Linked DNA regions of Homo sapiens. The protein of the gene in region 3 binds, or shares a complex with, the protein of the main gene of each other region. Each region holds a gene or a part of one and is shown on either strand. Other genes may lie near its edges. The genes, in order: LIN9, TFDP1, RBL2 and MYBL2.

Region 1 (8,069 bases), on a different chromosome or scaffold from region 3:
GTAGGGAGCAGCCAGACCACAAAGGGTCTTATAGCTACTAAAGGGTTTGTAACAGGAGGATGACATACATTCGTTTTGAAAGGATCCCTCTCGCTGTGTGTTTGTGGGAAGGGGGCTGAATTAATGAGAGGCTGAGGTAATTGGTAAAGAGAAGAAATGGTAACAGTTTGGGCTATGCTGATGGTAAGAAATGGGTAGAATTGATAGATATTTAGAAGGTAAAATTTACAGACTTAGTAAAGGCTTAAATATGGGAAGTGAAAGGGAGGAAAGTGGCTGGGGGCGCGGTGGCTCACCCCTGTAATCCCAGCACTTTGGGAGGTTGAGGCGGGTGCATCACCTGAGGTCAGGAGTTTGAGACCAGCCTAGCCAACATGGTGAAACCCCGCCTCTACTAAAAATACAAGAATTAGCCAGGTGTGGTGGCGGGCGCCTGTAAACCCAGCTACTCAGGAGGCCGAGGCAGGAGAATGGCTTGAACCCGGGAGGCGGAGGCTGCAGTGAGCTGAGATCGCACACTGCACTCCAGCCTAGGTGACACAGCAAGACTCTGTCTCAAAAAAAAAACAAAAGAAAAGAAAGAGAGGGAAGTGCCAAAGAAAATCTCTAGGTTTCTGCCCTGCCAGCTGAATGCACAGTGGAACCATTCGAATCACTAGAAGTATCTGTCCTGGGGTAGGACTGAGGTGGATTTTAAACCTGTGCAGTTTGAGGGGCCTTTGAAGCATCTAAGAAGAAATGTGAAACAGGCAAGAGATATCAAGAAAGGGAGCTCAGGAAAGATCTGGGCTGAAGATAGCCTTAATTTCCTTATATAAAATGTGAGCACTTACATCAACTGAAATGAAGATTAAATGAGCAAATACATGTAATATCCTTTGCATGGCATCTGGTTCATAGTAAATACTCAATAAATGGTAGCTTTCATTATTGATAATGTTATATCGACTCCTGAACAATATATTAGCTAGCCTCCTTGACTAAATGTGGCCAAAAAACATACTGCTATTTCCAGTATCAAATTGAAATCGCTTTTCCTTTTCAAGACCCTGCTCTAGTTTCAGTAATAATACCTGTTACTTTGCACTAATTCCATAAAAATTATTTATGTATACTTGATTTGTGGCACTGTATGACAAAGAAAGAAAGAAAATCCCTGGTTTCAACAAAGCTGAAGTCTACCTAAACAAGACATACGCTTCACAAATACACACCAATGCACCAGAGATGTCACAAAGTAATATAAATGATTAGGTTATATAATTTGAAAGTGGAGCTGGAATTTGAACCCTAATATAAATCCCAAGTCCCTACAAAGAACCACAGTAAATTCTCAATAAATGCTGGATGATATGAAGCAAATATTCCTAATGGCAGTTGTAAGAAAGCCACTTAAAATGCCTCTCATTACAACAGAATGACTACAGTAACCAAAACAGTAGCTCTAGTGATTGTGACATCCAAGAGGTGATAAGACATGTTTATGATAAAGATACCAAGGATGATGAAAAACATTTTCGGATGACAAGTACACTGTGCTTAGTAGGTCCACACTCATTTGGGAGCATTCTAAGTCACAATCAAGACCAGCTGCGGTGGCTCACGCCTGTAATCCCAGCACTTTGGGAGGCCGAGGCGGGTGGATCACCTGAGGTCGGGAGTTCGAGACCAGCCTGACCAACATGGAGAAACCCCCATCTCTACTAAAAATACAAAAAAATTAGGCAGGCGTGGTGGCACATGCCTGTAACCCCAGCTATTCGGGAGGCTGAGGTAGGAGAATCGCTTGAACCTGGGAGGCAGAGGTTGCAATGAGCCGAGATAGTACCATTGCACCCCAGCCTGGGCAATGAGTGAAACTCCATCTCAAAATAAATAAATAAATAAAATAAATCACAATCAATTGTATTCTACAAATAAACAGTACAGCTCATGACTGGTCAATAGCTGTGCCCTACCCAATACAGTGACTACTAGCTACATGTGACTATGCAAGTTAAAATTAAATAAAATTCAAAATTCAGTTCCTCCATCACTCTAGCCACATTTGAAATGTTCCATGGCTACATATGGCTAGTAGCTTGGCTGCCCTACTGGACATCACAAAAGAGAACAGTTCTATCATGGACAAAGTTCCTTGGGGACTTAGTGCTGCTCTCTATCAAATTTAAAACACAAACACTTTTAATACGACTTTTCACCAGCTTGGCAACTTGAATTTTTAACTTTATAACTTACTAAGAACACATGACCTCACAAAGAAAATGGAATCGGTAGTATGTTGAGTCCTCATTTTTAAGTCCATTTGCCTTGTGCATAGATAAGATTCAATAGTAATTGAGCCTTTCACAAATATGTATAAACTGAATAGTGAAAGTGGATTCAGGACTTTTTTTTGTAATTAAATAACATATTTGTCTTTTCATATAATTTATGCAATATTGTAAATTACAAAATTAAGTTCCATTGCCCTTAAACTATGGAATTGGTGCTTTTACTTACTCAACACAAGTGAGCATACATGTCTTAGATGTCAGGGTGAGTAAACATGGTTAGGGGAGGCAATGCCCTAGGGTGGGTGTCAGGCAGGGTACACGTACGCTGTGTTGGTCACATCCATGCATAAAGGTACCTTTATGGCTCTTAAGACACATATAGAATAAAGTCTGCGGGACGGGGTCTACCTGAACACTGAGTATCCGGGCTGGATGATCTCAGGAAAGGTCCACAGCCACCTGTGGTCCCAGGGGAAGGGGCCAACCCTCTGACACGGAAACACTTCCAGGGGTGGACACACCGGTGGGGGGGTGGGGAGGACAGTGAAGATCACAAGTGCCCGTAGAGGCAGGAGCTGTGACAGGACAAGATCAGAGGCTGGGGCAAGAAGAAGGGGCCGTGGACCACCCCGTGCCCAGCCCGAGCCCTCCCCCGGCCCCGGGACAGGCGAGTTACATAACCCCGGCGGGCGTCTCTCGGCGCCGGGCGAGTGGTGCAGGCGGCGAGGACAGCCCCCGCGCCCAGGGGCCGCTCTTCCCTCCACCTCGGCTGGGGGCCGGAGTGGCGCCAGGGGAGCAGCCACCGCCTCCGCCTGGCACAGGCTGGACTCCCGGGCTCTCGGTTTCCGGCCCTGGCGCTCACACAACCCCAGAAACCAACACACAGACACCATAACAAAGGCGGCGACGCGGCGGCAACACCGGAGTGGGAGGACTAGGGGACCACAGTGGGGCTGGCAGTCAGCCCACCTGCCCAGCGGAGGGCACGGCCGTCCGTCCCGGCCGGTGCAACCGCTGGGCAAGCAGCAGGCGGGAAAAGGGGGGGGTGCTTTGAGGTGCTACTCACTCTCGTCAGGCAACTGGTCGAGCTCCGCCATCTTGAACGAGCCGCGCCGCTTTTTCAAAGGCTGCCCGCCGCGGTGCATTGTGGGGCGGAGACTGTCTTTGCGAGGGAGGTTCGAATGCGGAGCTCGCTGCCCGCGGCGCCGCGCTGCGCTGCTCCCGCCGCGGCTGGCTGAGGCGGGCCCGGCTCCGCCCGCGCCTGCCCGGGGAGGAGGTGCCGCCGAAGGGGGGCCGCGCCTCGCCCCTCCGCCGCCGCCTCCGGCCGAGCCGGGCGGGAGGAAGGGAGGAAGGAGGCCGCACGGCGAGGCCCGGCGCCGGAGCGCGGGGGGAGCAGTACCAGCTCCGGAGTCCCGCCCGGGCCCCGCTCCCGGCGCATGTTCCGCGGCCCGCGCTGCAGCTGCGGGAACTGCAGGCTGTTTGTTCCGAGTGGAGAACGGGAGGGAGGCCCCGGCGGGGGGAAAGAAGCCCTCGGTTCTGGGTCGCATTGCCCGAGGGGGCTCTACGCAAAGTGAAATACTCACAGTTCCCGAAACCCACGTTGCTTGGGCGCCTCCGTCCCCTCACTTTTCCCGAGACCGCCGGCCGCAGCAGCCCCCTGCGCGTCGCGACGTCCGGGACTCGGTCCCAGCGGCCCCTCGCGATCCGGGCACGCCTTTCCCGAATGTTGGAAGCTGAGCTGCGTGCAGCCGGGGAGCGAGACCTTGAGAGGTCATGAAGTTGGTCATTTAGGCCGACAGCTAAAGAACTGTTCTGCTCAGCTGTTTCATCCATTCGACACTAGATCGTGCAGTGGGCTGGAAGAGAATTAGAAAACGAGTAACAGGAGGCTTCGAGAGGATACAGAAAGGAACAGTGACACTACAAGGTGATAAAGTACCTGATCCAAATGTTATGAGAATACTGGACGAGAATTGAACGAAATTGAAAGAAGCCCAAGGAAAAATTTCACAATATCTGTCTGTAACACTTTCCAGTAATAAAACACTGTTGCTTTTCAAAAATTCATTTAACGAATGTCATTGAGCTCCAATCCTTTTCTCCAGGAATTTATGGGGGTTGGAGGAATGAGACCGTTAAGCAGTCAAAAGACAACGTGGGTGAATTCCAGGAACTACAAAGTTAAAAGGCGGTAGACTAAGGTGACAGAGTGGTACACAGAGGCCCGCCCAGGCTAAGGAGTTGAACTTGCTTAGTCCACTGGAGCAGTGGAAAAGTCGGGTGTAAGAGGGGCACGTTTCTATTTGTGTTTTAGAACAAAAATATGGGAAATGGATTGGTGGGGGACAAGATGAGAGCCTAGAAACCAGTCAGGAAGAAGCTTATTTGGGGCATGCAAAGGACAGAAGAGAGATGCCTGCACTGGTAGCTAGAGAGGTGCAGCGGGTGGGCTCTGGAGCCCCAGGGCCTCGATGGGAAGAATCCAGATGGGCTGCTAGTTGTATAATCTCAGGCACGTTGGTTTCTTAACCGAATTCTCTGTGCCTCAGTTTCTTATCTGTAAAATGCAAATAACAGGGTTATTTTGAGGGCTAAACGATTTGATAGATGTAAGGACCTTATACTAGCTGCTAGCACCCATCAGCTAGCCACTATTACCACCATTACCACAGCATAGGCAGTATTAGAGAGAGGTGGCAGCATGCACTCCACCTTTCAAGACGTGGAAAATAAAGGATTGGGTGAGTCACTGGGTGTGAGGAGAAGGAAGTCTCATTGCTGATGCCAGCTCTGTGCCTTGGGTAACTGGGTGCTGCCATGCTAAGGTAGGAGGGAGAGCAGGGAGTGAGCAGGGAGGGTGAAAGTTCAATTTTACAAAGTAATCCTTCCTTCAGAGCTAGCTTAACCTCTCCTTTGCCTTCTAAACACACTCTGATCTGCTCCCTAAGAAGATTAAAACACTGGTCCTTGTTGTCAGCACCTAGGGGGTGCTTCAGCAGCTTGCACTTCAGTATCAATTTGGAGATGAGATCAAGAAAAGGTCAGCCCTTTAAGAATGGAAGAATAGAAATTAAAAAAACATGAGAGGTTACCAGAGTGGGAGAAGCAAAAGCTTTGTGAATGTCATGATAGTCAAGGTGTCATTAGACCAAGGCAAACCTGGTTTTATTCTGAGGCAGTTTTCATGTACACGCAACAACACAACTACTGTTTAAATCAATGTTTTTAGGCCCTTGCCTGATAATCTGCATTTTAAACAAAAACTTTGACTCTTCTCATAAATCCAAAGCCTGAAGCTGTATCCTAGCCCCAGATCTAGCGCTTAGCTGTGTGATCGAAGCCAAGGCACACCTAACTCTTCAATAAGTTTCGTTATTGAATATTTATGACAGGTTTTACAATGATTGGCTTACTTGATTCTCCCAACAACCTGGTAATTTGTCCAAAGACAATGGCAAGCAAGTGCTAGAATCAGGAATCTAGCCCACTTTTCGGTGCCTCAGTGACTCCCTCTGTGATGGGAGGATTACACGTATGTCTTTGTCCATTTGTGCTGCTATAACAAAACATCTGAGACTGGGTAATTTATAGACAACAAGAATTTTTTTTTTTTTTTTTGAGATGGAGTTTTGCTCTTGTCACCCACGCTGGAGTACAATGGTGTGATCTCGGCTCACTGCAACCTCTGCCTCCTGGGTTCAAGCGATTCTCCTGCCTCTGCCTCCAGAGTAGCTGGGATTACAGGTGCCTGCCACCACTCCTGGCTAATTTTTGTGTTCTTAGTAGAGACAGGGTTTCACCAGTTTGGCCAGGCTGGTCTTGAACTCCTGATCTCAAGTGATCTACCTGCCTCAGCCTCCCAAAGTGCTGGGATTACAGGCATGAGCCACCGTGCCCAGCCGACAACAAGAATTTATTTCTCACAGTTTCAAACGCTGGGAAGTCCAAGATCAAGGTGCCAATGTTGGTGTCTGGTGAGGGCAGCTCTCTGTTTCCAAGATGGTGGCTCGTTGCTCCATCCTCTGGAGGGGATGCATGCTGTGTCCTCACATGGTAGAAGGGACAGAAAGGCAAGAGAACACCTCCTTCAGTCTTGAGCCCTTTCATAAGGGTGCTAACCCCATTCACGAGAGCAGAACCCTCATGACTTAATCACCTCCCAGAGGCCACACCACTTAATACTGTTGCATTGGGGATTATGTTACAACTGAATTTTGGAGGGAATACCATCATTCAAACCATAGCAACATGCAACACAGGGGTATTAAGTTTCCTGCAATCACTTATTCCAATTTAAAATGACATGACTGTGTGTGGTGTTTGCTTTTTAAAAAAAACAAACCACGGTGTGGATAAGGTCATTAAGTCATGAAAAACCTAAATAAAAATACACCATAAGAAACATCTCATGTACCATCATAAATATATCCACCTACTATGTACCCACAAAAATTCTAAAAAATTTTAAAAATACCATAAGAAAAATAAACATGGCCACGTTTTAGAAATACCAGGTTTGACCATTTCTAGTCCTGTGGCCTATTTATCAATTATTGGGTTGGATTATTTTTGTGAAAACAGTTGCAATGACTAAAGATAAAATGTGTGTGTTGGGGGCCTGGTGCAGTGGCTCACACCTGTAATCCCAGCACTTTGGGAGGCTGAGGCAGGTGGATCGCCTGAGCACCTGAGATCAGGGGTTTGAGACCAGCCTGACCAACATGGTGAAACCCAGTCTCTACTAAAAATACAAAACTAGCCAGGCGTGGTGGCTTGTGCCTGTAATTCAAGCTACTTGGAAGGCTGAGGCAGGAGAATTGCTTGAACCTAGGAGGTGAAGACTGCAGTGAGCTGAGATCACACCACTGCACTCCAGCCTGGGTGACAGGGTGAGACTCCGTCTCAAAAAAAAAAAAAAAAAAAAAAAAAGCGTGTGTGTGTATAGTATGTGTGTGAATGTTTTTATAAATACTTTTGATAAAGTTGGGAATTTGAGTTAGTAATGAAAAAACAAAGACAATTCAGTTTGCCTTGCTTGAGTATCTCAGCCATAATGAGGTAAAAAGGCTCTCCAGCCTATAAATATATATATTTTTAAGTTATGTTGCTGGTAGGACTCCACACTCAGCATTTCCTCTTCCAGCATCCAAGTACACCAGGAGTACTGATGGCCCCAGGATCTAGGTTCAAATTGCAGTTCACCTACTTCCCTTGTGTGTATTCTTGAACAAATTACTCTCAGTAGTAGTTTTTAGTTTTCTTCTCCCTTTCTTGAAGGGTTATCATGAAGATTAAATTACATATTGTAAATTAAGTGCCTACCAAGATCTCCAGTGACTGTTGGTATCCTTCCTTGATGAGAATCCCTCTTTTACAACATAAATATTCTCAAAAATGTGCCCAGTGGCCATCCTGGTAATTCCCTTCAGAATCATCTCCCTGAACATGTTCAGAGCAGTGGAAACAGGCGTGAGGAGTGAGAGCAGAAGACATGGGTTCTAAGCCTTGCTTTACCTCTAGTGAGCACCATGATCTCGGACAAGTCATTGAACCTTTCTGCCTTCGTCTTTCCCATTTGGGGAGTGAATATAACTACACTGCCCTACCTAGATCACAATGTGAGGATGCATGTCCATAAAATTGAGATAATAAAAGATAAAATTCTCTACATGTGCTAGATATTATGTATAACATCCAAGTTTAGTGGAGTTTAGTATGTTACACTACTCTAATGAAAACTATAACAAAGCTTTTTAAAAAATCATATACAATACAAATGTGAAACTCATAATG
Region 2 (7,465 bases), on a different chromosome or scaffold from region 3:
CTTGGCCCCAAAACAGATGCCGTCACCGTGCCGCTGTCCTCCAGGCAGGAGCAAACCTACTCACAAAGAGTGGACTTACAACGAGGAACTGACTTACAACGAGGAACTTACAAGGAACATCCCGATAAACCCGCATGAGCTGAAAATACCCTAAGTCGAAATGCACGTCATCCACCTCTCCTACCACACATCACAGCTTAGCCAGCCTACCTTACACGTGCTCAGATCACGCATGTTAGCCCAGTCGGGCAGAAGCATCTCACACAAAGCCCACTCTAGTCAAGTGTGGGTATCCCAGGAGACCCACTGAATACCACACTCAAAATGAAAAATAGGACGGTCGTATGGGCAGTGGAAGCAGTTTCCACTGAATGCATGTTGCTTTTGGACCATCTTAAAGTCAAAATCACAGGTCAAACCCACTGTAAGTTGGGAAGAAGAGAAAGCCAGAGGCAGGTACACACCAGGTGCTCAATGGTGCTCACCAACAACCTTTCCTGGAAGACAGGACTCAGCACCCAGGGGCACCCTGAGAACGAGCCACCAGTGCACTGGGAATGCGTTGTTTACGGAGGCCAGGTCTTACAGGAAGCTCTCCTTACTCTCCTGCTTTAACTGCTCCCTGCGGAAGGCCCCGCGGCATCCGGCCCATGCAGTGCTGGGCAAGGGTGCCTGCACCTTCCTCTGCGTGCCCTGCGTGGCAGCTCCCCTCACTGTGTCTCCGCAGCACTGTCCCTGCTCCTCACCCATCACCTGCTGCTCACCAGCCCTGTGAGCTGAGTCAGCATCACAGGGGCGGCCTGGAGCCAGCCCTCCCAGGAACGAGACAGAGGCTTTGCTCCCGGACCTGGCACAGGTGTGTGCGTTTCCTTCCTGGTGCACAGGAAGCCGGTGAACTCGGGCCGGCCGCCTGTGCCACAGGACGCCTTCCAGTCTCCCATTCAACAGACATGGAGCAGGCCCCCGGCCTCACTTCCCTACACCAGGAGCCACACTCAACAGCCAGAGGAGGCACGGCAACACACTGAAGCCCTGGAGGGCGTGTGTGGGCAGAAGCGCAGGGAAAACAGGAACCAAGGAGGTGCCAAAGGGTGGATGGGACAGTGCCGGGAAGGATAGTTCAGAGCTGGGCCCCTAGGGAAAAAAAGGAGGTATTGGAAGCAGTGGCCACGCTAGCTGGAGTGGTGGGCAGAGACCCTGGAAGGGAGAAGTGGTCACAGCACAATGAGGGGTACTGCCCAAAGCTGGGAGGCTGTGGGTCCCACTCCAACCAGGGCTTTCCAGGAGATCCAGGAGCCTCTGGGAGCAGGAGGCAGGCAGGGGCTGAAAGGCGCCAGGGACACCCACCCCTTAGATTTAACAGCGGCTTCTCTGGAGGATGGGCTCCGCCCTCACGACTCCCTCACCCGCCTCTCGCTGGGGAGCAGGGGAGGTGACCCAGGCCCCACAGGTCATAAGGGGTCTCCCTTCCTACTGTGCTCACGGCTGGAATCCAAGCTGCGCTTCAGAGAAAGTAAATGACATGGCTTCAGACACAGTCTACATGGCTCCAGACACAGTCTTTACACGGCTCCAGACACAGTCTTTACACGGCTTCAGACACAGTCTCTACACGGCTCCAGACAGTCTTTACACGGCTCCAGACAGTCTTTACACGGCTTCAGACACAGTCTTTACACGGCTTCAGACACAGTCTTTACACGGCTCCAGACATAGTCTTTACACAGCTTCAGACACAGTCTTTACACGGCTCCAGACAGTCTTTACACGGCTTCAGACACAGTCTTTCGACTCTAAAGCTTTTGCAGCTTCCACGCCAGCAGTCGTTAGAAAACAGCTCCAGGTGGAAGCATCCCACAGTAGAGGACCTGCCGGAGGTCCACCTTGCCCGAGACCAACCCTCCTCCCCCAGGAGCTCCCCTCCTCACTGGCTGCACAGTGAGCCTTGGTGTTTAAAGCAGCGATCCCCCACCTTTTTGGTATCAGGGACCAGTTTTGTGGAAGACAGTTTTTCCACAGACCGGAGTCGGGGGTAGTTTCGGGAAGAAACTGTCCCACCTCAGATCATCAGGCATTCGATTCTCATACGGAGTGCCACCTAGATCCTGCATGTGCCGTTCACAGTGGGGTTTGCGCTCCTGAGAACCTAATGCTGGGATCTGACAGGAGGCAGGGCTCAGGCGGCTGTGCGGCCAGCTTCCTAACAGGCCCAGGGGTTGGGGACTCCTGATTTAAGGCATCCCTTCTGCCCTAAGTGCACACTTTTTGCACCTTAATTTCACACACTCTAAAAACTGAGATTACGATGTCTCCGTGTAGTGTGACCCCACTCAGACACAGAATCCTAGAGATGGACCAAGGTTAACCGCGGTGTCCAGAGAGACAGGGCCAGTGGCGCAGCTGCAAAGGAAAGGCCACTGCGACCACAGATGCCGACTTCTGGGACACAGGCCTGGGTGGGGGGCTGCTTCTCCCCAGGGGCTCACACAGGCCGCTGCTCCTGCCGGCTGAGCACATATGTCCTCTGTCCCGCACACGTTCCTGTGCGCGTGCTGAGCTCTGCAGCACCACAGGCTTCACAAGCATCCGCACCTCAAAAGACCCTGACCTTGACAAGCCCTGCGCCTGCTGACTGGTGCAGGTCAGAGACCTAAGGACCTCCCCACCGCTTTCACTCACATGCCCGGACTGAGCCCCACCCCTCGTGTCAGAATGAGCCAGTCCAGTTTTTTGTAAACCTCTGGTATATAAAAAGGTTTAAGAAACATTTGCCCTTTGTCAGCTTTAATTCCCATCACTGGGATTTTGCAAAGCACAAAACAGCAATGACAAACTCCACCCGAACAGCTGAATTTAAATCAGGAACTTGACTTTCAGTGACGAAGTTTAAAGCACATCAATAAGATAATCTTCTCATTCGTTTCCCCCCAGTGTATTCACACCGGCAGTAAAGACGAAAGTGGTGCTACAATTATTCACCCAGACAAACTCTGCTATGACACACAGCACCTATAAAATCAAACTTAGAATTCCTAGTCAACTTATAAGCAAACCTATAATCTAATTATCAAGCAAAACAAAAACTGAATTTTTAGCTTTTATCAAAATGGCATTTACTGAAAAGCCGTGATCTGCTGTGCAACGTGGTTGAAAAGCCGTATGACGTGGTAGGGCTTCCACAAACCGCTACTTTCAATGGCCACAAAACTTCTGCAGAGCAAGTTTTTTGTCACCTTCCACAGGCAGGAAACGGGGCCACAAAAGCTGCCTGGGATCTGGAACCGCTCAATCAGGACAGCTGTGTGGGAGCACACACGGGGAGGGGGGCTGCGGGGAAGCGGGGCGCAGGGAAGTGGGACGCGGGGAAGGGAGCGCGGGGAAGGCAATCCTGCTCAGATCCTCAAGGCTGTGACCCACAAGCCACTCTCTCTTAAAACTCATATCCTAACATCTGTTAAAGAATCCAGAGAATTTCAAGCATATTTAAATAAACGGAAATAGCAGGAATGCATATAAAATAAAGACTAAAGTGCAAAAATGACCAAAATATCCCTGGTATGTGGTCATGTTCTCTGAAGAAAACATGATTAGACCAAAGGGAGATGCCCTAGACAACAAAAAACAGCTCAGTACAGAGAGCTCTCCACAGGGCCAGGGACACCTGAGGATGCCTGGGGATCCATGAGAGACACCTGGGGACACCTGAGAGACACCTGAGGACACGTGAGAGACACCTGAGGACACGTGAGAGACACCTGAGAAACACCTGAGGACACGTGAGAGACACCTGAGGACATGTGAGAGACACCTGAGGACGCGTGAGAGACACCTGAGGACACGTGAGAGACACCTGAGGACACGTGAGAGACACCTGAGGACACGTGAGAGACGCCTGAGGACACGTGAGAGACGCCTGAGAAACACCTGAGGACACGTGAGAGACACCTGAGGACATGTGAGAGACACCTGAGGACGCGTGAGAGACACCTGAGGACGCGTGAGAGACACCTGAGGACGCGTGAGACACCTGAGGACGCGTGAGACACCTGAGGACACGTGAGAGACGCCTGAGGACACGTGAGAGACGCCTGAGGACACGTGAGAGACGCCTGAGGACACGTGAGAGACGCCTGAAGACATGTGAGAGACGCCTGAGAGACACCTGAGGACACGTGAGAGACGCCTGAGGACACGTGAGAGACGCCTGAGGACACGTGAGAGACGCCTGAGGACACGTGAGAGACGCCTGAAGACACGTGAGAGACACCTGAGAAACACCTGAGGACACGTGAGAGACACCTGAGGACACGTGAGAGACACCTGAGAAACACCTGAGGACACGTGAGAGACACCTGAGAACACGTGAGAGACACCTGAGAAACACCTGAGGACACGTGAGAGACACCTGAGGACATGTGAGAGACACCTGAGGACACGTGAGAGACACCTGAGGACACGTGAGACGCCTGAGGACACGTGAGAGACGCCTGAGGACACGTGAGAGACGCCTGAGGACACGTGAGAGACGCCTGAGAAACACGTGAGGACACGTGAGAGACACCTGAGGACACGTGAGAGACACCTGAGGACATGTGAGAGATACCCTGAGAGACACCTGGGGACATGTGAGAGACACCTGAGAAACAGCTGAGGACAAGTGAGAGACACCTGAGGACACGTGAGAGACACCTGAGAGACACCTGAGGACACGTGAGAGACACCTGAGAGACACCTGAGGACACGTGAGAGACACCTGAGGACACGTGAGAGACACCTGAGGACACGTGAGAGACACCTGAGGACACGTGAGAGACACCTGAGAAACACCTGAGGACACGTGAGAGACACCTGAGGACACGTGAGAGACACCTGAGGACATGTGAGAGATACCCTGAGAGACACCTGGGGACATGTGAGAGACACCTGAGAAACACCTGAGGACAAGTGAGAGACACCGGAGGACACGTGAGAGACACCTGAGAAACACCTGAGGACACGTGAGAGACACCTGAGAAACACCTGAGGACACGTGAGAGACACCTGAGAAACACCTGAGGACATGTGAGAGATACCCTGAGAGACACCTGAGGACATGTGAGAGATATCCTGAGAGACACCTGAGAGACACGTGAGGACATGTGAGAGATACCCTGAGAGACACCTGAGGACATGTGAGAGATACCCTGAGAGACACCTGAGGACATGTGAGAGACACCCTGAGAGACACCTGAAGACATGTGAGAGATACCCTGAGACACACCTGAGGACATGTGAGAGATACCCTGAGAGACACCTGAGGACACGTGAGAGATACCCTGAGAGACACCTGAGGACACGTGAGAGACACCCTGAGAGACACCTGAGGACACCTGAGAGACACCCTGAGAGACACGTGGGGACATGTGAGAGATACCTGAGGACACCTGAGAGACACGTGAGGACACCTGGGGATGCCTGAGAGATACTTGGGGACACCTGGGGACACGTGAGGATGCCTGGGAGACACCTGAGGACACCCGAGAGACACGTGAGGACACCTGGGTATGCCTGAGAGACACCTGGTGACAGTGAACGGACAGGTTCTCATCCCACCCGGAGGTGTTCAATCCTTTTAAGAGGACTGGGCCACAGCACAGACGGAGCAGGGTGAGGGGGTGGAGTGGGCCAGGAGGCCGGGGTGCAAGAGGTGCTGCATCACCAAAGCCCAGGGTTGGCAGGAACAGGGCTGGGGCAGCTGCCCAGGCGGGGCCACAGCATCATCTCAGGACCAGGAAGGAGCCCTCAGGCACCATAAACAAGTCCCTGAGGAAGGACTGGAAGCCCGGCCTAGCCTTGGGATGGCTATGTCCCTCACCACCAGCTCCAGTCACAGCCAAACCTGCCCACCAAGTGCCTGGGGCCCCATTTCTGGTGAGGTCAGGATTCTGTGTGGGCTCCCTGTCTCCAGTAGGCTGCCACCGGCAAGGACGCAGAGGGCGGACACGAGACAGGAAACAGCATTATGAGAAGCAGCATCAGTTGGCCAGCATCAGCCTGGGGAGGGGGGATGCGCCACTTCCCAATGCCCACCTTCCCCTCTCCTGTGCGTGGCCAAGGGAGCAGCATCTGCCCTGTCACTGCCCCGGGGCAAACGCACAGCCACGGCCAGGGCCCTATCCCTCTCTGGCTTCCCAGCCTGATGTCTCCAGGAGGGCCACAGCCAACGCTCGGCCACATCACGTAAGAAGCCCCTGTTAGATGAAGAGCTTCGAGCTCTGACACTAAAAGGAAGCTGCCTCTGGTTGGGGCCGCGGCCCCACCCACCACCCTCCAGTTACTGGAAGGATGGCATGGGCTGGGGCACACAGGAGTGCTGTGGGCGCCATCACCTCTCCCACAACAACACGTGGGCAGCTGCAGAGGGCTATGGAAAATCTAGCACTGGCCACGGGCTCCCTGATGAGGGAAAGGCCCCATGCTGCAACTGGAGCCCAAATCCAGGCACACCTGGGAACATCCCCAACCACACGGCTCATCCGATCCCGACCTCACACCGAGATCCCGGCTGTCCGCTCCTGCGGGAGGCTTACCACTTGCTGGGCAATGTTGACATTGGACTGTCCAAAGGTTTTTGGCAAGAGCTGCTTCCCGAGCGGGTTGACGGTGGAGGGGTGAACGGCCACGAGGGACACCACGCCTGCAACACAAGGACACCAGGTCAAGGGCGAGACTCCTTTTCTAAGTTAAGGCTACAAGCGACCATTCTAAATGCAAGACGGTGCTTGCAATTAGAGATGCTTAGCTTTCCCCACGTGTACTGTCTCAAATCCAGGGCTCAAGAGCAACACCTCCATGAAGCTTGATTCCCAATGTAAACCCGTAAGGGGAGGGCCGCAGGGCCGCGCTGACGCCACCCAGGTGACCCAGGCAGATCATCCACTGCTCCAGCCCCTCGGCGATGTCTGCTATGGAACGTGCTGGTGGGGACCACGGCCTGGAAAAGTCTGTGATTCTATGACAATTATGGAACAGAATTTTAAAACTAGAATTTTTATCGCAACATTTCTCTATAAGGCTGCAAAACTAGTTTGGAAATCTGATAATCCACTTTTCCTTAGGAAGGAGAACCACATTTGTTCCTAGGAAGGAGTGTGCCTTCCACAGAGGCTGCGGCTCTAAACATGCAGGTGCCCTCAGAACACTGGTGAAGCAAGCGGGAGACCCCTCTGCAGGAGATGTGAAGCCTCTGTCTTCCAACAGCGGTATGCAAAAGGTCCTAGGGACAGGGCGGTGGATAAAAGTCCTGGAACATTTACACATAAACAGAAGTAGTAATGATAAAGTTCAAAAACTGGCATCAGCGGGCAGAGAGAACTAAACAAAGAAACCGTAAACCAGGTGGTAGCGAGCACCCTGGGAAACAAGTTGGGAGGCCTGGGTGGTCAGCACAGCCCGGGAGGGGCGTCAGGGCAACACTGGAAGGGTG
Region 3 (7,465 bases):
CTTTGTAGAGAGGTGGTAAAACACCTTAATCAGATTGAAGAACAGATCTTAGATCATTTGGCATGGAAACCAGAGTCTCCACTCTGGGAAAAAATTAGAGACAATGAAAACAGAGTTCCTACATGTGAAGAGGTTTGTGAAAATAACATCTTTTTATGAGAAAAATACATCAATATCTAATCTATTAATAATCCTTTTGGGGATGGGAGGGTGGCAATTAGGTTTAATATGTTATAATTACACCTTGTTATGAGAAAAATCTTGGACTGTAACGTCCCTCTCTACCCACAAATTGGGAAGGTGCCAAGAGACCAAAGAATGACTCAGACAAGTCCAGCTTGGTAAGTAGATAACGTTTATTAAGACTTACATATGGAGGAGGCAGAGGTGGTGGGGAAAAATAAAAGACTTATATACAGGGTACTCCTAGGTAGCAGCAGGACAGCTCTAGAGATCCTCGCCACCTCCCATCGCTAAGCTGCTTTTAAGCTAATTTTCTGGCTCTTTGCCTACTATGTGTGTGCACGATGGGACTGTTTTCCTTGGTAGTTTCTCAGATCTTCTCTGGGATGTTGGGGTTCTCAGGGACACCTGTTCCTTGGCTGGGCACCATGGCCTTGGCTCACTGCCTAGCCTTCAGGGTTTAGGCAGCAGACATACACCCTTAAGTAAGGTAGGTGACCTGTCACATTTCACCCCATGTCAAAGAGGAAACGAGTCAGATAATTTGTGGTTGTCCTAAGATTTTGGTGACAGAGTAAAAATTCAGTGTTCTTTCTTGATTTCCTTACCAAGTTTCTTTCCCATAGAGCAGTGGTCCAACCTTTTTGGCACCAAGGACCAGTTTCATGGAAGACAATTTTTCCATGGACAGGGTTGGGGGTTGGAGAGATTTTGGGATGATTCAACTGCCTTACATTTATTGCACACTTTATTTCTATTATTATTACGTGGTAATATATAATGAAATAATTATACAACTCACCAAAATGTAGAGTCAGTGGGAGCCCTGAGCTTGTTTTCCTGCAACTAGATGGTCCCATCTGGGGGCGGTGGGAGACAGTGACAGATCAGCAGGCATTAGATTCTCATAAGGAGCATGCAACCTAGATCCCTTATGTGTGCAGTTCACAATAGGGTTCACACTCCTGTGAGAATCTAATGCCACCACTAATCTGACAGGAGGCCAGCACAGGCGGCAATGTGAGCGATGGGGAGCAGCTTTAAATACAGATGAAGCTTTGCTCGCATGCTCACTTGCCTGCTGCTCACCTCCTGCTATGTTGCCCAGTTCCTAACAGGGTCCATGGCCCAGGGGTTGGGGACTCCTGCTTTAGAGTGGTTGATATTCAAACTCTCCAAACCAGTAATGAAGTTTGACTCATATTTAGTATCCAATTACAAGGTTTTGAATTTTTTGACTGCCAAAAGTTTTTTTTTTAACTTTATTATTAAAATGGGAAAGACAGCTGATTTTATTTAGATGGAATAATTGTTAAGATACTTTTTCTGCCTTAGATTACTATTGTATTTGTAATTAAAGTGCTTTTTTGGATACTGGCATTCTGTGTAACCAATTCTTCATAGGTCATGCCACCTCAGAACCTGGAAAGGGCAGATGAAATTTGCATTGCTGGCTCCCCTTTGACTCCCAGAAGGGTGACTGAAGTTCGTGCTGATACTGGAGGACTTGGAAGGAGTAAGTTTAAAATACTAGGAGAATATTTTGGGGCTTACTATCTGGAAATTTAAATTTCATCTAACCCTACAAGTGAAGTTAATAGGGTATACATAGAAGAAAATATTCTATGCATTTTTGTACCACATGGATCACTTAAAAGAAGGGCCTTTAAAGACTAAGAACACAGGAAAATGCATGATATAACAGGTATCTTTTAAAAAGGATAGACTGCTTTATTTATTTATTTATTTATTGAGACAGAGTCTTGCTCTGTCACTCAAGCTGGAGTGCAGTGGCCCAATCTCAGCTCACTGCAACCTCTGCCTGCCGGGTTCAAGCGATTCTCATGCCTCAGCCTCCTGAGTAGCTGGGACTACAGGCATGCGCCACCACGCCTAGCTAATTTTTGTATTTTTAGTAGAGAAGGGGTTTTGCCATATTGGCCAGGCTGGCCTTGAACTCCTGACCTCAAGTGATCCGCCTACCTCGTTCTCCCAAAGTGCTGGAATTACAGGCATGAGGCACCGTGCCCGGCTGACTGCTGTATATTTAATATGATCCCTATTTTTAAAGTGTATGTTTATTTATGAGCATACAAAATAGTGGAAATGGAAAAACCAAACTGTTAAGATCATTGTTGGGTGATAGAATTCCTGGTGATTTCTGTAAAATTTTTAAGGCAAATACATATTACTTTTAAAATCAGAAATAGAAAAGCCTTCTTAAAGATAGAGCTGCATGATCCAGTTAGGTATAGACAAGCCAGTGAGTTAAGACAACTGAGTATGTTCCACTTTGTTGAGCTGTGCTACCCTAGTTAATGTGACATTAGTGCTGGCCCAAGAAATACAGAAAAGGGCAGTTTTGCTATCTATCTGGTTTGTATTTTTTAGGCAGCTGCTTAGAAGATCTGCAAGGTGAAAGGTTTTAGTTTACATATGTGAGATAGAACTACTTTTTTAAAGAGCAATTCAGTAAATCCAGAGAGTTCTAAATCCTTGGATCCAATTAAAAGAATATTCTTATTTCTAGATCAGTTTTATAATGTAATTGATAAGAACTGGCTATAGAAGGAATACCAGTTTTAAAGTCAGGATTCACTCTAGGCTGGGCATGGTGGCTCATGCCTGTAATCCCAGCACTGTGGGAGACCTAGTGGGGAGGATCACTTGAGCCCCGGAGTTCAAGACCATCCTGGGCAACATAGCAAGATACCATCTCTACCCCCAACCCCCCCAAAAAAATCACTCTAAGTGTATACTTAATACACATGGATGATCCTTATGAAAAGTCCTCATTTTTGAAAGATCTGACAGCTGGTCTTTCTTAGTCTATTTTTGTAGAATTTTCCGTTCCCTAATCTACAGATTAGGAAGACTTGACTTTAAACTTCATTTTCTTTGTACTTACCACTTCTCAGTTTTCCTGAGATCTCTTGATATTTTATAAGAAAAAATGATCATAATCTATTCTTTCTGATTCTGCAGCTTTGTACCAAATACAAATCTAGTAAGTTTATTTACTTTTGTATCATCTGGAAATAGAAATGTTAAGCCACAGTTTGTTAGGATTTACTCCTATCAGTACTTCTTACAAACTTTCTATGTATATTTTAAATTTTAAAAACACTCTGATGCACAGCTCTTAGAAGTGGACACAGAAGAAGGAAGAAATGCTTCTCAAAAATTCAGACATTGGTGTGAATACTTAAAAATAGACTAAGCCATAATGGGTTGTGTACCACTGAATCATACACTTAAAAATGGTTGAATGGTAAATTTTATGTTATATATATAACCACAATTTTAAAAAACTAGCCTGTAATACCAGCATTTTGGGAGGCCAAGGCGGGTGGATCACCTGAGGTCAGGAGTTCGAGACCAGCCTGGCCAACATGGTGAGACCTCATCTCTACTAAAAATACAAAAATTAGCCATGCCTTGTGGCATATGCCTCTAATCCCAGTTACTTGGGAGGCTGAGGCACAAGAATCACTTAAACCCAGGAGGCAGAGGTTGTAGTGAGCCGAGATCAGGCTACTGCACTCCAGCCTGGGTGATAGAGTAAGACTCTGTCTCAAAAAATAAAAAAAATAGTAACAATTTGCCCCAAACCATTGAATTGTATAATTTAAGTAGATGAAATTTATGGTATATAAACTGTTTTAAAAAAATAAATTATGCTTAACTGAATCCAAATCATGCATGTCCACCTTGCTTAAGAACATTATTGAGTTTTAATAATTTTTTATATGTGGAAAAAGACAGAGATCAAAATTGATAAAACCGGTGGCGGAATGCTCCTAGATGACATACTACCAATCAGGTCCCCTTATCAAGTAGTGGCTCTGTAGTAAAATCACATCTTACATGAGTGGTAGGTAGAAAGTGGATATGATAGAAAATATTATAGAAAAATATAATATAGAAAAATAGGGTAATTCCTTAAATTGCCCCTAAATCATGAAGGTTCTTTAGTAGTGGAAGACAGAGTCAGGTCTGATTTGGGAAAGGGGGCGTGGAGAAAGGAACACTGCAAGACAAAAAATTCCGTTTTAAAATTTTGCTCTCAGTAGTGTTCACTGAACACGAATGAAAGTTCACTAATGAATATAGGTAAGATATGACTTCTGTAATTCTTGTTTGCTTTTTGAATTATGAAGTATTTCAAACACTGTAGTTATTTTTTAACATAAGAGCTTGGACGGAAGTCAGATCTGAGTCTCCTTGAGTTAAATGCTTTGTTTGATTTGTTTTGACCCTAGGCATAACATCTCCAACCACATTATACGATAGGTACAGCTCCCCACCAGCCAGCACTACCAGAAGGCGGCTATTTGTTGAGAATGATAGCCCCTCTGATGGAGGGACGCCTGGGCGCATGCCCCCACAGCCCCTAGTCAATGCTGTCCCTGTGCAGAATGTATCTGGGGAGACTGTTTCTGTCACACCAGTTCCTGGACAGACTTTGGTCACCATGGCAACCGCCACTGTCACAGCCAACAATGGGCAAACGGTAACCATTCCTGTGCAAGGTAAGGAAGGCAGAGTTGGATATTGAGTTCCTTCTCTGTGGCATGTATTGAAAAGTTACCCGAGGTTTGGCTAGAGTGACATAGGGGACAGAGGAGTGATGGGGAGAGAGGGTTTGGGAGAGCAGAAATTGTAAACCTCTGCCCGGAGAACCTCTTATTATCAACATTTTCTTCATGCTTTTTTTCTCTGTCACTAGGTATTGCCAATGAAAATGGAGGGATAACATTCTTCCCTGTCCAAGTCAATGTTGGGGGGCAGGCACAAGCTGTGACAGGCTCCATCCAGCCCCTCAGTGCTCAGGCCCTGGCTGGAAGTCTGAGCTCTCAACAGGTGACAGGAACAACTTTGCAAGTCCCTGGTCAAGTGGCCATTCAACAGATTTCCCCAGGTGGCCAACAGCAGAAGCAAGGCCAGTCTGTAACCAGCAGTAGTAATAGACCCAGGAAGACCAGCTCTTTATCGCTTTTCTTTAGAAAGGTAATTTTTCACATACCTTATCAGAGCATGAGCTTGGGAAATACAAGTGTTAAACAAAGTTTGAAATGTTTTTATCTCCTAGGTATACCATTTAGCAGCTGTCCGCCTTCGGGATCTCTGTGCCAAACTAGATATTTCAGATGAATTGAGGAAAAAAATCTGGACCTGCTTTGAATTCTCCATAATTCAGTGTCCTGAACTTATGATGGACAGACATCTGGACCAGTTATTAATGTGTGCCATTTATGTGATGGCAAAGGTGAGTACCATTTGGAATTGTAAAGGCAAAGATAGGTCTTCATTACTGAGAACATTTTTTAACCACTGTCTTGAGATACAGTTTACATGCTCTATAATTCACCTATTTAAAATGCACAACTAAATGGGTCTTAGTATATTCACAGATATGTGCAATACTCACCACAATTTTAGAACATAATATTCCATTGTATAGTTATATGAGAGTATTTTTATCCATTTATTAGCTAATGTATATTTTAGTTGTTTCTACTTTTGGCATATATGCATAATACCACTATTAGCATTTGTGTTTGGGTTTTTGTATAGACATGTATTTTCATTTCTCTAGGGTATATACCTAGGAATGGGCTGCTGGGTCATACATTAACTGTGTTTTAACTATTTAGGGAATTGCTAGATTGTTTTCCAAAGTACTGTACCATTTTACACTTACACAGCAGTATAATAAAGATTTTAGTTTCTCCACTATCTCATTAACACTTACTATCTTACTTTGTTTAAATAACTTATTGAGGAGAAATTCACATAACATAAAATTAATTGGGTTTTTCTTTTTTTTTTTGAGATGTTGTTTCATTCTTGTCACCCAGGCTGGAGTGCAGTGGTGCATCTCAGCTCACTGCAACCTCTGCCTCCCAGGTTCAAGCGATTCTCCTGTCGTAGCCTCCCGAGTAGCTGGGATTACAGCCATGTGCCACCATGCCTGGCTAATTTTTGCATTTTTAGTAGAGATGGGGTTTGACCATGTTGGCCAGGCAGGTCTCAAACTCCTGACCTCAGGTGATCTGCCCACCTCGGCCTCCCAAAGTGCTGGGATTACAGGCATGAGCCACTGGGCCCAGCCAAATTAACTATTTTAAGTTGAACAATTTAGGAGCATTTAGCACATTTACAGTACTAAGTGTAATAAATGGTTGTATACTCACCACCTCTGTCTAGTTCCAGAACATTTCCGTACCTGCAAAGTAAAACTCCTTTCCTATTAAGTAGTTTCTCCCCATTCTACCTCCCACAGCACCTGGCAACCAGCAGTTGGCATTCTGGCTGTATGGATTTATCTGTTCTTAATCGTTTATAGAAATGGTACAATATGTGACCTCTTGTGTATGGCTCCTTTTACTTAGGATAATATTTTCCAGGTTTACCCATGTTGCAGCATGTATCAGTACTTCATTCCTTTTTATGACTGAATGATATTCCATTGTATGGATAGGCACAATTTTTTTCTCCACTCATACACTGATGGATATTTGGGCTGTTTCCAACTGTTGGCTATAGTGAATAGCACTGTTGTGAACAGGTATATCATGTACCTGTTTGAGTGCCCATTTTCAGTCCTTTTGAGTTTATTCCTAGGAGTGGAACTGCAGGGTCATATGGTGATACTATGTTTAACTTTTTTGAAGAACCACCGTACCATTTTCCACAGAAGCTGCACCATTTGACATTGCTACCAGTAATGCACAAGAGTTCCAGTTTCTCCACATCCTTGCCAACTTATTATTTTTATTATAGCCATCTTAGCGGGTATTGGGTGATATATCATTGTGGTTTTGATTTTCATTTGCCTGATAACTAAGGATGTCAAGCATCTTTTCATGTGCTTACTGGCCATTTGCATATCTTATTTGGAGAAATATCTTTAAATCCTTTGCCCATTTTAAAATTATGTTATTATTGAGTTGTTGGAATTCTTTATTTTGGATACAACTACCTTCTCAGATGTATGATTTGCAAATATTTTCTCCCATTCGGTGTATCTTTTCACTTACTCGATAGTGTCATTTGAAGCATAAAAGTTTTTAATTTTGATGAAGTCCAGTTACCTGTTTTTTGGTTTGTTACTTGCACTTTGGGTGTCCTAAGAATCCATTACCAAACCCAAGGTCTTTTGATTTTTATAGTTTTATCTCATAGTTAGGTCTTTGATCAATTTTGAGTAATTTTTGTGTATGGTATGAGGTAGCAGTCCATTTCCATTCTGATTATGTGGTTGTGCAGTTGTCTCAGC
Region 4 (7,793 bases), on a different chromosome or scaffold from region 3:
TATGGGGTTTCACCATGTTGGCCAGGCTGGTCTCAAAGTCCTGACCTCAAAGTAATTTGCCTGCCTTGGCCTTCTAAAGTGCTGGGATTACGGGCATGACCACTGTGCCCAGCCTGAATCTCTTTTGATGACCCATATTTTATGAGATACAATTCAAACTCTAGCATTCCCAGCTTTCTCACTTGAGGTCCAAGCCTTTCTAACTCTCCAGCCCAAATGTTAGCTTTGTAACATTGCATCCACTCAATTTAAATGGAATGTGTAGAACCCCTTCCATGAGTACCTACCAGAAGCCAAGCTATAGTAAAGGTCTGAAGCTTAAAATGTGCACAGGCTGTCCTTTCTCTTGAGAGAGAAATAAAATGGTGGAGGAAGTGTGATGAGGACAAGAATGATAAGGAGGATGCTCTGGAGGTGGAGGGGGAAGACTCCAGCCAGAAGGGCCATGTGATTCTACTTATCATCAATTAGTGTTTGGTGTCCAAGCTGGTGCTGAGCCCTGAGCATTTAATAAATTGATTTGACCCTTATCTTCCCAACACAGGGTCAGGCCTGGGGGTTGGGGCAAATTGTGGAATAACCAAATACCTGGAGCCTCCCTGTCCAAGGAGGGCGTGTTCAGGAAAAGTTTCCCAGCAGAGATAAATTCTGTATGTTACTAGTCCAGAGTCCAGGGACCACTCCCAGGTGTGGTTTCACTCGGGACACTGGGAATCCTCTCTCCAGGGGATATCTGTTGGTATGATGATAACTGGAGAGGAAATGTGTGGAGATCATCAGATTCCATCTGGCACTAGGGTGATCTCCCTGCTGCCTGACTCACAGCACTGACTCCAGGCTTCTTTGGCTCTGGGGCATTGGTTAACTGGCCCCAGTTCCAGGTTGCAAGTGCACTCTGCAGCTGTTCCCTGCCTCTTGCTTTGGGCAGATACCTTGCCCAAGCTGTCAGGTCCTGCCTCTCCCTGAAATGGGATGACTAATGTGTGGACCTCAAAGGATAAGAGTGAGGGCAGCTGAAGAATTACAGTAGTAATAATAGCTAACAGTAATATAGTTCTTTTTTTGCTGGGCGCGGTGGCTCACGCCTGTAATCCTAGCACTTTGGGAGGCCGAGGTGGGTGGATTGCCTGAGATCAGGAGTTTGAGACCAGCCTGGGGAACATGGTGAAACCCCGATCTCTATTAAAATACAAAAAATTAGCCAGGCGTGGCGGAGTGCTTCTGTAACCCCAGCTACTCGGGAGGCTGGGGTTATTGAGACGGAGTCTTGCTCTGTTGCCAAGGCTGGAGTGCAGTGGCACGATCTCAGCTCACTGCAACCTCCGCCTCCAGGTTCAAGTGATTCTCCTGCCTCAGCCTCCTGAGTAGCTGGAGTTACAGGTGCATGCCGCCACGCCCGGCTAATATTTTATATTTTTAGTAGAGATGGGGTTTCACCATGTTGGCCAAGCTGGTCTCAAACTCCTGACCTTAGGTGACTCACTCGCCTCAGCTTCCCAAACTGCTGGGATTACAGGCATGAGCCACTGTGCCCGGCCAATATAGCTCTCATTATGTGCCAGGAACTGTTTTTGGTGCTTTACACATATTAATTTATTTAATCCTATAATTACCTACAAAGTATAGTGATTAAGAGCATAGACTCTAGAACTAGACAGGCCAGGTTTGAATCCCTGCTCTGCCATTTACTAGCACTGTGACCTTGGGGAAGTCTGTGCCTCAGTTTTCCCATCTGCTAAAAGAGGATAATCCCAGTATCTACCTCATAGAGTTGTTACAAGGATTAAATGAGTTACAATTTATAAACAGAATGCTGGCTGGAAATATTAGCTGGGCATGGCGGCGTGCTCCTGTAACCCCAGTTACTTGGGAGGCTGATAGTTTAAAAACTATCTAAAATTTTGATAAATCCCATTTTTCCAGGTGAGAAAACTGAGGCACAGAAGAGTTAGGTAATTGGCTGGGCATGATGGCTCATGCCTGTAATCCCAGCACTTTGGGAGTCTGAGTCGGGTAGATCACCTGAGGTCAGAAGTTCAAGACCAGCCTGGCCAACATGATGAAAACCCATCTCTACAAAAATACAAAAAATAGCCAGGCATGCTGGCGCATTCCTGTAGTCCTAGCTACTCGAGAGGCTGAGGTGGGAGAATCATTTGAATCCGGGAAGTGGGGGTTGCAGTGAGCCAAGATCACACCACTGCACTCCAGTCTGGGCAATAAAGCAAGACTTGGTCTAAAAAAAAAAAAAAAGTTAAGTAATTTGCCTAAGATACCGCAACTGAATGGTGGAGCTGGGACTCAAACCCCAGGAAGTTTGGCTGTGGAGGCTGTGCTTTCAATGAAGTGGGCATGTCCACATTAATTACTTTATAAGGGGAGTGGGCGGGAGAAACCCTGAATTAAGTGATGTGGAAGCTTCTAGCACTTAAGATGTGAGTTAGTCTTCCTTCTGTGGTAAGTGAAGTTTGCAGCAGCTGGTGGCTGGACTGTCCCCAGGTGGCCAGCAGCTTCTGGAAGGGGGCTCTGAGGCCTGAACAGGGGCTAAAAGGCTGGGGTTTGATTTGGTTTCTTCAGCGTCCTGTCTCAGAGCTCATTTATCTTCCTCTCAGCACTGCTCCCAGGAAGTCCAGTGTGACTTGATCCTTGGTACTTGGTAAATGTCAATCTAATATAGAAAACCTTTGCTAAATCTCAAGGAAAGACAGTCTCACTGTCTGTCGCCCAGGCTGGAGTGCAGTGGCGGGATGACAAGGGCTTGAGCCCCTCGAACTCCTGGGCTCAAGCAATCCTCCTGCCTCTGCTTCCCAAGTAGCTGGGATTACAGGCATTCACCACCACAGCCAGGTAATTTCTTAATTTTTTGTAAAGACAGGGTCTCACTCTGATCCCCAGGCTGGTCTCAAACTTTTGGACTGAATCAGTTCTCCCACCTCGGCCTCCCAAACTGCTAGGATTACTGGCATGAGCCACTAAATCTGGGCTAATCTCTGGGAGTTTAAACCCAAGGTAAACAATTCAATGCAACAAACCTTTGCCTGGGGCTTCTTATGTCAGGTCTTCTACTGGGCCCTGGAGATACTGGTGTGCATTGAGAGGCCACCTGGACCTCAGGATGCTCCCAGTTCAAAGGGGGAAATGCAGAAGTCTACAGGCAGATTGTGGGCAGTGGACCCCAAATTAAATAGGAATCAGCCACGTGGGAGGGGCAGGAAGTGTTCCTGCCCTGGGTAATGGCTCAGGCAAAGGCAAAGAGGCCGTTTCTTTTGGCCAGGGCTGGGTGGTGGTCTGGAAGATCAGATAAATGTGATTGTGGAGTAAGGAATTTACCCTGAGGGAGAGGAGGATGGTTTTAAATTCTGGAAAGAGCTCACGCCTGCAATCCCAGCACTTTGGGAGGACAAAGCGGCAGGATCTCTTGAGCCCAGGAGTTTCTAGACCAGTCTAGGCAACAGCAACATAGCAAGACACCCCCTTCTCTTAAAAAAAAAAAAAAAAGCGCAGTGGCTCACTCCTGTAATTCCAGCACTTTGGGAGGCCGAGGCGGGCGGATCACGAGGTCAGGAGACCTATACCATCCTGGCCAACATGGTGAAACCTCGTCTCTACTAAAATACTAAAAAAAAAAAAAAAAAAAAAAAAAAATTGCCGGGCGTGGTGGTGTGCGCCTGTAGTTCCAGCTACTTGGGAGGCTGAGGCGGGGGAGTCGCTTGAACCCGGGAGGTGGAGGTTGCAGTGAGTCAAGATCGCGCCACTGCACTCCAGCCTGGCGACAAAGCGAGACACCGTCTCAAAAAAAAAAAAAAAAAAAATCAGCCGGGTGTAGTGGCGAGTGCCTGGTCTTAGCTACCCGTGAGTTGAGGTAGGAGGATCGCTTGAGCCTAGGAGGTGGAGGTTGCAGTGAGCTATGATCGCGAAACTGCACTCCAGCCTGGGCGACAGAGCAAGACCCTGCCTCTAAGAAAAATGAACAACAAAAAATAAAGTCTATTAAGGAGGGTCTCTTGGAGGCAGGAGAGGAAGCAGGGAGAGGCACAGGTAGGGTGAGGAGCCGCTTTAGGGTGCGGCTCTAGGGACCCAGTAGTGGCTTGGACTAGCGTGGGGGATTCCGCCCTGGCGCTTTCCCTGGCTGGCTCTCCCATGCTCGCGCCTCGCTCCCCTTCCTCGGTCTTCGCTATGTGGGATACTCCTGGGCCGCCCCGGACTGACACGTGAGCCAGGCCTCGGTCACATCCCGGCCCGCTCCACAACTCCGAAGTAGCGGCCGCCGCCCCTGTCCTGCAGCCGGCCCTGGAGGGTCTGGGCAGGTGCCGCCCCGCAGGCCCCGCCCCGCCCCGCCCCCTGGCTCCGCCCCTCACTCAGGCCCCTCCCCCGGCGCCCGCGCGCCAGGACTGGGCGGCGCCGACGCGCTTGGCGGGAGATAGAAAAGTGCTTCAACCCGCGCCGGCGGCGACTGCAGTTCCTGCGAGCGAGGAGCGCGGGACCTGCTGACACGCTGACGCCTTCGAGCGCGGCCCGGGGCCCGGAGCGGCCGGAGCAGCCCGGGTCCTGACCCCGGCCCGGCTCCCGCTCCGGGCTCTGCCGGCGGGCGGGCGAGCGCGGCGCGGTCCGGGCCGGGGGGATGTCTCGGCGGACGCGCTGGTGAGACGAGCCGGGAGGGCTTGGGCCCCTCCCCCTCCCTTTAACTCACCCCTCCCCCACCCAGATACCCCCGACCCTCCCCAGGCTCCCACCAAGCTGGGGTGTGTGTGTGTGTTGGGGGTGGGGTGTTTCCGCGGAAATGCTGCGTCCTGGGCCCTCTGAGGCAGGGGCGCGCGTAAAGCTGGGGGGCTCTTGGGCGTCCCTCGCGGCTCCCCAGGCCTGTTGGGCCTCGGAGCTGGGACGGGCGGGTCTCTTGGGACCCGGGCCAAGCCGTGCATGATGTCATTTTGTCTCCCGCCTAATTGCGGGATGGGGGTGGGCCGGCCGGTGTCAGCTGGCAGGGCCTTCGCCGGCGAGGGAGGCGACCCCTGGGAGCGAGAGGGAGTCTTCAAGTCCCAGCCAGTGGGAGACCGAGCCTGGGAGGCACTTGTTGCAGCCTAGTTTTGGGTCAACTTGGTGGGTGGGCTTTGCTCCTTAACATTCCGGGGAGCACAGAGTCCCCCAAGCCCTCTCCCCTGGACTGAGAAGGGTGCTGAGTTGGGGGCTCTTTTGTCTCTCCCACCTGGGTTCCGCGCCCCAGCTTGGTTCGGTTTGAGACCTCTCTTCCTGTTCCCACGAGGAGTTTTGGGCAGCTGGGGTTGAAGGTGCGGGGGAGAGAGAGAGTCCCTGGGGCAAAGGCAGGAACTGCGGTCTCCATTTTACTTATTTCCCCAGAGACTTAAGTGGCAGAGCTGAGCCCGGAGCCAGGTCTGTGGCTCCAGATCCCTGTCTTACACCTGTGCGCCTGGGGCCTGAGCTCCAAGCTTTTCAGCCTGCCTGGGAGACAGGACAGTGGGGTCCTGACCTCTTCCCTGCCTGGATCGCTGCAGCTCAGATAACCTTCGTTCCCTCTTTTTTTTTTTTTTTTTTTTTTTTGAGAAGGAGTCTCGCTCTGATGCCCAGGCTGGAGTGCAGTGGCGCGATCTTGGCTCACTGCAACCTCCGCCTCCCAGGTTCAAGCGATTCTCCTGCCTCAGCTTCCCGAGTAGCTGGGACTTCAGGCACGTGTCACCACGTCGGGCTAATTTTTTGTATGTTTAGTAGAGACAGGGTTTCACCATGTTAGCCAGGATGGTCTCGATCTCCTGACCTTGTGTTCCGCCCGACTCGGCCTCCCAAAGTGCTGGGATTACAGGCGTGAGCCACCTTGCCCGGCCAAACTTCGGTCCCTCTTTAGACGATAGCCTCATCTAAAGATGAAGCCTTCCATCCCTCTAGATTTTTGCCCTTTCAGGCTGAGGATAGGGATCTGAGCACAGGGACTGTGTTCCTCAGGCCCCACTTTCCCAGGCCAATGTCCAGGAAGAGTTTTCTGTTCAGGCGCCTATCAGACCCTGCCCTGGTTTTTTTTTTTTTTTTTTTTGAGGCAGGGTCTCCGTCTGCAGTCCAGGCCGGAGTGCTGTGGTGCTGTCATAGCTCACTGTAGCCCCAACCTCCCAGGTTCAAGTGATCTTCCCAACTCAGCCCGCTGGGACTGCAGGCTGAGTAGCTGGGACTATGGGCACGGGCCGCCACAACTGGCTAATTTATTTAATTATTTAGGAGACAGAGCCACTCTGTGTTGCCCAGGCTGGAGTGCAGTGGCACAATCTCGGCTCACTGCAGCCTCTGCCTCCCGGGTTCAAGGAATTCTGTCTCAGCCTCCCAAGTACCTGGGACTATGGGCACACGCCGCCACGCCTGGCTAATTTTTTGGATTTTTAGTAGAGATGGGTTTCACTGTGTTGCTCAGGCAATCCGCCTGCCTTGGCCTCACAGAGTGCTAGGATTACAGGCGTGAGCCACCGCGTCTGGCGTGTTTTATTTTGTGTAGAGATGGAAGGGGGCGGGAGTGGCCTCGCGTTGTGTCTCACCTCACTATGTTACCCAGGCTGGTCTCGAACTCCTGGCTTCCAGGGATTCTCCCCCACTTGGCCTCCCAAAGTGTCGGGATTACAGGTGTGAGCCACCTTGCCTGGCGCCATCCTGATTTTTTGTTCAGGAAGAGTTATTCCAGGAGTGACTGCCTCTAGACCACCCCAGGTCCTGGGCTACTTCTCCCATGAGGGGCTCAGTGGAGGAACCCCTCCTGTGTGAAGGATGGCAGCTCCACAGCCCTCAGCCCATTTCCTGGCCACTTGCTGTAACTCTCCTCTGCCCTAGTGCCCCACTTCCCGCTTTGTCTCTGACTCACCCCTGTCCTGGAGCAGAGCCCAGCACGTTGAAGGGCAAAAGGTAGGGTATGTTGGACCACAATGTGGTTGCCACCACTAACTGGACTCTGCTTTTTCAGCTGGGATTAGGATATGAGGACTTGCAGGTGTCTGGAGTTAGGAAGGTTCAGAGCCTGGCTCTATGAACTTGGCAGGTGGCCTCACCCCTCTGAGCCTCAATTTCCGCATCTGTTAAGGGGGATAATGAGAATGTGGGTGAAGTTGATGGCCAGCACATATGGTAAAGTATATCATCTCACAGAAATGCCCCAGCTGTCTGAGATGCTGACCCTATCAAACAGCATTGGAGGCTGGGTGTGGTAGCTCATGCCTGTAATCCCAGCACTTTGGGAGGCCAAGAGTTCAAGACCAGCTTGACCAATATGGTGAAACTCCTCGTCTCTACCAAAAATACAAAAATTAGCCGGGCGTGGTGGTAGGCGCCTGTAAGCGCGGCTATTCGGGAGGCTGAGGCAGGAGAATTCACTTGAACCCAGGAGGCAGAGGTTGCTGTGAGTCGAGATCATGCCACTGCACTTCAGCCTGGGTGACAAAGCGAGACTCTATCTCAAAATAAACAAACAAACAAACAAACAGCATTGGAGCACCAGGGAGTGTCCATGCAGACATCATTTCATCCTTGAAAGAATATTTGCTGACCTTCTGTTAGAAGCCAGGCCTTTGTGCTGGATGCTGGAGAAGCAAAGATGGTTTCTGTCACGAGCTGTCTGGGGGCAGTTGATTTTAAAGCCAACTTCATTCTGTTATTAGTATCTTCTGGATTTTTGCCTTCTATATTGAAGTGGTGGAGGACCCATGAACTGGGTCAGGAATGAATTCCAGATCCTTCTGTATTGCTGACTGTAGACACCGTCCCTCCTTTCCTATTTCTGAAAATTTTTTTCTTTTGAAATTGGGTCT

The links.
Region 1: RBL2 (region 3) and LIN9 share a complex: the UniProt entries of both Homo sapiens proteins name them as parts of the DREAM complex.
Region 2: RBL2 (region 3) and TFDP1 share a complex: the UniProt entries of both Homo sapiens proteins name them as parts of the DREAM complex.
Region 4: RBL2 (region 3) and MYBL2 share a complex: the UniProt entries of both Homo sapiens proteins name them as parts of the DREAM complex.

The regions. Positions count from the first base shown.
Region 1 is NC_000001.11:226,305,767-226,313,835, forward strand, and holds the start of LIN9 (protein lin-9 homolog), read right to left. Parts: upstream 3,374-8,069; coding exon 3,343-3,373; exon of another isoform or gene 2,685-3,342; intron 1-2,684. UniProt on the Homo sapiens protein: Acts as a tumor suppressor. Inhibits DNA synthesis. Its ability to inhibit oncogenic transformation is mediated through its association with RB1. Plays a role in the expression of genes required for the G1/S transition.
Region 2 is NC_000013.11:113,622,391-113,629,855, reverse strand, and holds part of TFDP1 (transcription factor Dp-1), read right to left. Parts: intron 6,677-7,465; coding exon 6,570-6,676; intron 6,564-6,569; exon of another isoform or gene 5,095-6,563; coding exon of another isoform or gene 4,849-5,094; intron 4,353-4,848; coding exon of another isoform or gene 3,627-4,352; exon of another isoform or gene 1-3,626. Other genes in the region: uncharacterized protein LOC124903219, read right to left, coding at 3,627-4,352, 4,849-5,094. UniProt on the Homo sapiens protein: Can stimulate E2F-dependent transcription.
Region 3 is NC_000016.10:53,465,471-53,472,935, forward strand, and holds part of RBL2 (retinoblastoma-like protein 2), read left to right. Parts: coding exon 1-132; intron 133-1,587; coding exon 1,588-1,699; intron 1,700-4,445; coding exon 4,446-4,715; intron 4,716-4,912; coding exon 4,913-5,193; intron 5,194-5,275; coding exon 5,276-5,452; intron 5,453-7,465. UniProt on the Homo sapiens protein: Key regulator of entry into cell division. Directly involved in heterochromatin formation by maintaining overall chromatin structure and, in particular, that of constitutive heterochromatin by stabilizing histone methylation.
Region 4 is NC_000020.11:43,662,663-43,670,455, forward strand, and holds the start of MYBL2 (myb-related protein B), read left to right. Parts: upstream 1-4,451; 5' UTR 4,452-4,621; coding exon 4,622-4,641; intron 4,642-7,793. UniProt on the Homo sapiens protein: Transcription factor involved in the regulation of cell survival, proliferation, and differentiation. Transactivates the expression of the CLU gene.